2 separate regions of the Homo sapiens genome follow, and region 1 is linked to region 2. The links come from fine-mapping of genetic effects on gene expression. A gene starts in region 2. The other region holds a variant in brackets. All regions are shown on one strand. Distances are between the middles of the regions.

Evidence for each region.
Region 1: its variant is fine-mapped to the expression of TBC1D14 in whole blood (INTERVAL, PIP above 0.99).

The regions. Positions count from the first base shown.
Region 1 is chr4:6,986,923-6,989,841 of GRCh38, reverse strand. All of the region lies in intron 3 of TBC1D14 (TBC1 domain family member 14), which reads right to left. Among named protein-coding and RNA genes, the nearest start is that of CFAP184, 55 kb to the left of the region's middle. RefSeq lists enhancers at 2,216-2,265, 2,371-2,919 and a silencer at 2,366-2,775. The variant C/T (reference allele first, on the strand shown) is at 1,775.
Region 2 is chr4:6,908,640-6,911,139 of GRCh38, reverse strand. TBC1D14 (TBC1 domain family member 14) reads right to left here and starts at 1,314. Exons shown (of 14, transcript NM_020773.3): 1 at 1,189-1,314. RefSeq lists an enhancer at 578-647 and a silencer at 888-1,947.

The sequences.
Region 1 (2,919 bases), 78 kb before region 2:
GTGTGGTCTGATGACCCAGCTAAGGTTGAAGAAAAAAGGCAGGGAGGCAGGGTGCCTGAGCAGAGCCCCAGTCTCATGCAGAGGGCTCTGCATGAGACTCAGCATGCAGGGCAAGAGGGAAGGGGCCATGTGGAAAAGAGGAAACTAATTTGTGAAGGGACCACGCGGGCCTGGCAGTTTAGGAGATCCTCAATCTCCAACCCAGCAGGGCTCACTCGACAGGGGCAATACGATGCAGGCAGAGGCTCCCACACAGGTGAGACCGTGAGATGTGCCAGGAGGGGCGAGCCACACACTGTGGGAGGAAGGGCAGGATGCCTGAGGCCAGGGGGACATGGGAAGCTTTCACAAAGGGGCCAGCTGAGTGGACAGACAGGTAAGACGTGGGCTAGAGGCCAAGAGGAAGAGGCACTCTGACAGCAGAAGCAGTGGCCAAGAGACACCCACAAGCAGGCTAGCACCAGGATTTGAACCGGGAATGGTGCAGAGTCAAAGTTGTTTTGCTCTAGATTTGAAGGTCTCAACACGTTACCCAGAGGTGCTGGGACAAGCCCCAGGAGAGAGAGGAGAGCCAGAGGAGAGACTATGAGGTATGGGGAGCCCCTCAGACGCATCCAGGGGCAGGGTCTACATTCCACGTGTGATCTGCACAGTGCTAAAGACAAGAAGGGCACGAGGCTCCTGAATTAGGTTTAACGTTTGTTGGTTTAAAAAGCGGGGGAAAAGCCTGCTTCAATGCACATTTGTTTTAAGAGCGAAAAGAAAGGATCATGATTCTCAAACAATGAAGAAGTATTCCTAAGCCTGGCACAGAGGTGCTGTGCCTGTGGTCCCAACTACTCAAGAGGCTGAGACAAGGATCACTTGAGCCCAGGAGTTCAAGGTTGCAGTAAGCCATAACCGCACCAGGGCAACAGGACAAGACCCTGTCTCAAAAAAAAAAAAAAAAAAAAAAAGAAAGAAAGAAAGAAAGAAAAAAGAAAGTACTCCTGGTAGAAAGACAAGAAAGGTCATCAATGCTACTTATGAACTGGAGGAACACTACAAAACAGCCAATGATGTCAATAACCTGCTACTGGAAGCCCCCTGACTTCCAGGAAGGAGCCTCTGGCTCCCTGGAAATCTATTTTACCTAGAAGAGGAAAGGGTCATCAGTCAAATCCTGTGCTTAAATCTCCGACCCCGCTGTCTGCAGTATCAAGATTCACCAGTGAAAATAACCTGAGGATTTGGGAGCGCGCCTGGAATAAAGCTGCCAAGGCAGGCTGGCCATCCGAGTGGTACCTATCAAAAGACTGACTTGAACTAATGCTGTGACAGCACGGCCACCACATCTGCACAGGCTGAGGACCCAGGGAAGCGCTGGGGGACAGCGGCAGGCCTGGTCTGAGCCAGCACCACCAGCAGAATGACCTTGAGCTCCTCCTCCATCCACAAGCCTGTTTCCTCATCTGTTACACTTGAAGATTAAATGAGAACCAGCATAAGCTGCAGAGCCAAAGCAGGTGCCCAGAAATGATAGGAGTATGACTGTCACTATATACTATGAAATTACTCTTCACAACATTCCACTCTAAGAGGGTTGCTTGTGGAAAAGGGCACGAAACTGAAAGTGTCCGCAACACCGCGGCTGGTCTCACACTTGGCCATTTGTAAAAGCAATTGTCTTGGAGGGGGGAGCCCAGTTTAGCATCTGGGAGGGGCTGTTTTGCCATTTTGAGGGGGAAGAATGGCCTGCACAGGTCTTAGAAAGGTCCCACCTTCCAAAAGGCAG[C/T]CCCGGCTAACCCCTGAAGCCTGACCTCACAGTAAGTAAAGCCACTGAGAACATCTGAGTGGTTCCTCTGGCCTGGGTTCTTTAACAAGCTGCAGTCCCCTCCTGGAAAGCGTTCTCTAAGTTACTGGGAATGTTGGCATTCTGGGAAGCACTCTCAGGAGTCCTTTTCTAATAGTCATATTCCTCCCAGAGCATCAAAAGTTAATATGCGGGCTGGTGAATGAAACATATTCAAAGGAACTAGGTTTTAACACGCCCGGTTGCTGTTGCAACCTGACCACCTCATTGGGCTCTAGAGCTCGGAGCGCAGTCTCATCTCCATACAAAGGCTCATCGGATCGCAGGCGAGGCCCTTCTGACCTCTAAGGGGGCTGCTGGGCCTGGCCCGGCTCTGAAAACAGGGTAAGGAGGACTCAAAGGACGTGCTCGCTCACGCTGTCTCTCGTCGTCCTAGTAAACGTGAACCAGAAGAAAATACGTGGAAACACAGACACAAAGAGTACCAGGGAGGAGAGCGCATCAGCAGCATGCACAGCAAGCTTCGGCTGTTGAGGACAGATACACGTGATGCTCGCACACCCGCACAACCGCACACATGCACACTCGCACCCTCCACCTGCGCGGGGCCGCAGGGCTGGCAGGCCCAGGACAGGACAGGCCCACGGGACCGGGCAGGCCTGGGGCGCAGGGAGAGGCACCGGCCCGCACCCCGACTCACCATGAACGCCGGGGCCTTAGAGGCGCGCGGCCGGAGGCTCCATGCCCAGCGAGCGGAGGGCCGGCCTCCCTCCCTCCCTCCCGGACCGCGGGCGGGCGGGCGGACGCGGCGGCTCCTCAGACTCGCGGGGCGGGGCGGGGCGGCAGGCCGCTCAATCGCGCGCAGACACAGCGAGGCGATCCGCGCTGCCGGCTCGGCGCGTCAGGCCTGGCTGGAGACTCCCAAGGGGGCGGGGCTGATGAGCGGCGAGGGGCGGGCACAAGGGGCGGGGCTGGGGCGTCCCCGTGGTACGGCCCCACCGGCCGTAAACACCGGGGACGCGCGCCGACAGGCGGAGAGCCAGCTTCTGCCTTAAAGATCACCCGAGAGCTGAGAAACGTGTTGCCAAAAGAAATTGCACAAAAATAGTCGCACTAGTGAGCTCTGG
Region 2 (2,500 bases):
GATATGGGTTGGTACTGGCCAGATAAACTGGGCAACAGGAAGTGTTCTAAGACTGCTGTAAGGACTAGCCCGGTCCAGACAAAGCAACCACCAGTTTCCAACAGGCAACCCACCGCTATAAAAGCTAGGCAAGACAGCAACTAGGTGCCAACATCCTACAATACTGGGGACAAGACAGTGAGCATTTTGTCCCCAAGACACCACCACGACTACCCTCCTCATCTAGCCTCAGTGCGTGAAATAACCAAGGTGATGCCCAGGGACCTCCAGTAGGGGCAAAACGCACCGGTGCCTATAAAACCTTCCCAAGCAAAGCTTCCAATTCCACGCTAGAGAAAACGGCGTCCTATGCAACTTTAGGACAGAAACGACTTCACGTGGCCTGGTCAGGCGCGGTCACCCCGGGGCTCGCAGAGGCTGGCTCTGGAGTCCACAGGGTCATTCTCCTATCCTCCTGACCAGCTGTTCCCATCAGGACCGCAACCCACAGCCTAGAGAGACTCCTGGCGGGAGGGAGACCAGGAGTCCCCGGACTTACTCCTCAAGGCAGCTACCCCGGCCCCGAGACAGTCCCCGGGCCAGGGTCTTCGCGGCCCGGTAATGGGAGGCTCCAAGGCGGAGGCAGAGAGATTCCCTAGCCCAGGGACAGACGGTTCGCGTGGGTGGAGGTCCAAGGAGGTCAGGGCTCCGAGATGAAAGGGGGTTTCGCGGGTCAGGGGCTCCAGGGGTAGAGGGGTCAGAGATGAAAGCGGGGTCAGGGGCTCCAAGGAGGAGGGTCCGCTGCCTGGGGACTGAGGGTCCGAGGTGGAAGGGGGCTCCGGGGTCGGGGTCTGGCGCACCGAGGCGCCTCTTCTCAGGCCGGGAGCCTCGCGTCGGAGTAGGAAAACTTTTCGTCAAGTTCCGTAAAGGAGCGGGACACAGCGCGCGCCTCCGCGAGGGCCGCCGAGTCCCGAGAGTCGCCCCCGCCCCGGAGGCCCCGTAACGGCACCCCGGGCGCCACGCACGCGCTGCCCTGGCGTGCAGGAGCCGCGGCCGCGCGGCGAGGGACACCCAGCAGGACCCGCGCCCGGCGACCTGCCTCGCCCCGGCCGCTCCCCGCCTCGGCCGGCGCTGCAGCAGGTGGCGGCCCCGCGCGCCCTGCCCTCCCTCGCGGCCCGCGGCCCGGCCCTCGCGGGAGGCTCTCAGTACCGGAGTTAGCGCGGCTCCGACGCCATCCCCGGGACCCGTGGGCCCGCAGCCCAGGCCCCGCGGGACCGGCAACTCGCGCGACGAGGACGCCGGGCACGCGGTAGGCAGCGGGTCCGACCCGCAGGTGCGCGCGAGCAGCCCGCGGCGAACAGCGGCGCGCACCCTCGCTTCGCCCCGCCCCCTCGCCCGCCCCCTGGGCACGCCCCCACGCACTTGCGCCCCGCCCCCTGCCGGCCCGCGCCCGTTCTTCCGCCCGTGCCGCCGCGTCTGGAGCTCGGCGCTCGCCCGGCTGTCCCTCTTCCGGGGGCCGCCCGCCGCGGGCCTCCGGAGCGGCGTCGCCGGCCCTTTTTTTTTGCCGGAGAACCAACCGGAGTGGCGAGGAGCTGCCTTGAGCGGGCCTTTGTGCCCGCAGGGCCCCCACGGACATCCGACAGGGGGCCCCTTACCTGGTCGGCTCCACCCGCAGCCATCTTGGAAGTGGGAAGCGGCCGGGAGGGGGAAGGGGCTCGAGCGGGCAGGGCTCAGGCGTAGGGAGCCGAGCGGCGGAGCGCATCGATGGGGCTCCCCTGCCCCGGCCGGTGTGCGGGAGACGGCCCGGGCCCCGCCGCGGAAGGGAAGCTTTGCGTGACACCGGAGCTCAGGCCCCGCCGCGGTGGTCTTGGGAGCGGCGCCGTGGCGTCCTCCCAGCCAGCCTCAGTCTCTTAATCTATAAAGGGCTTTTCCGAACGTTCTCTCTTATCGCGCTGTGACACGGTGCCTGGCGCTGTAGTTCCCAAACTGGTCTGCACTTTAGTATTGCCTGCGGAGCTTTTAATATTCTGAAGCCCAGGCCGATTAAGTCACAGTCTCTGAAGATGAGATGGAAGCATCATCAGTTTGGGAAGCTGTGTAATGTGCACGCGGGTTTGGAAGCCACTGGCCTGGCGTTATCTGCATATTTGGCCTCAACATTGCACAAACTCCAGAGACGGGATCTATGATCAGAGCCATTGTACAAAGCGGGAAACGGGCTCAGAGATGAAGCCCTCCGCCCAAGGACCCGGGTGGGTCAGTAGCTGAGAGGGGCAGAAGCCAGGTTCCCTGCCCCAGAGCCCTCCATGAGCTGGTAGAGAGTATGTGAGGAGCCCCTGTTGACGGGCAGTGGGTCTCCATTCCCCTTCTAGGCTGTGGGTTCCATGAGGAAAGCCGGGCTTATCTTGTTTACTGCTATTTTCCCTGGGCCTGGCAAATAGTTGGTATTTGACGTTATTGGGTTGTCGTTAGACTCTGGGGACTTGAGGGCAAGAGGAGAGACCCAGCGCTGGGAGCCAGA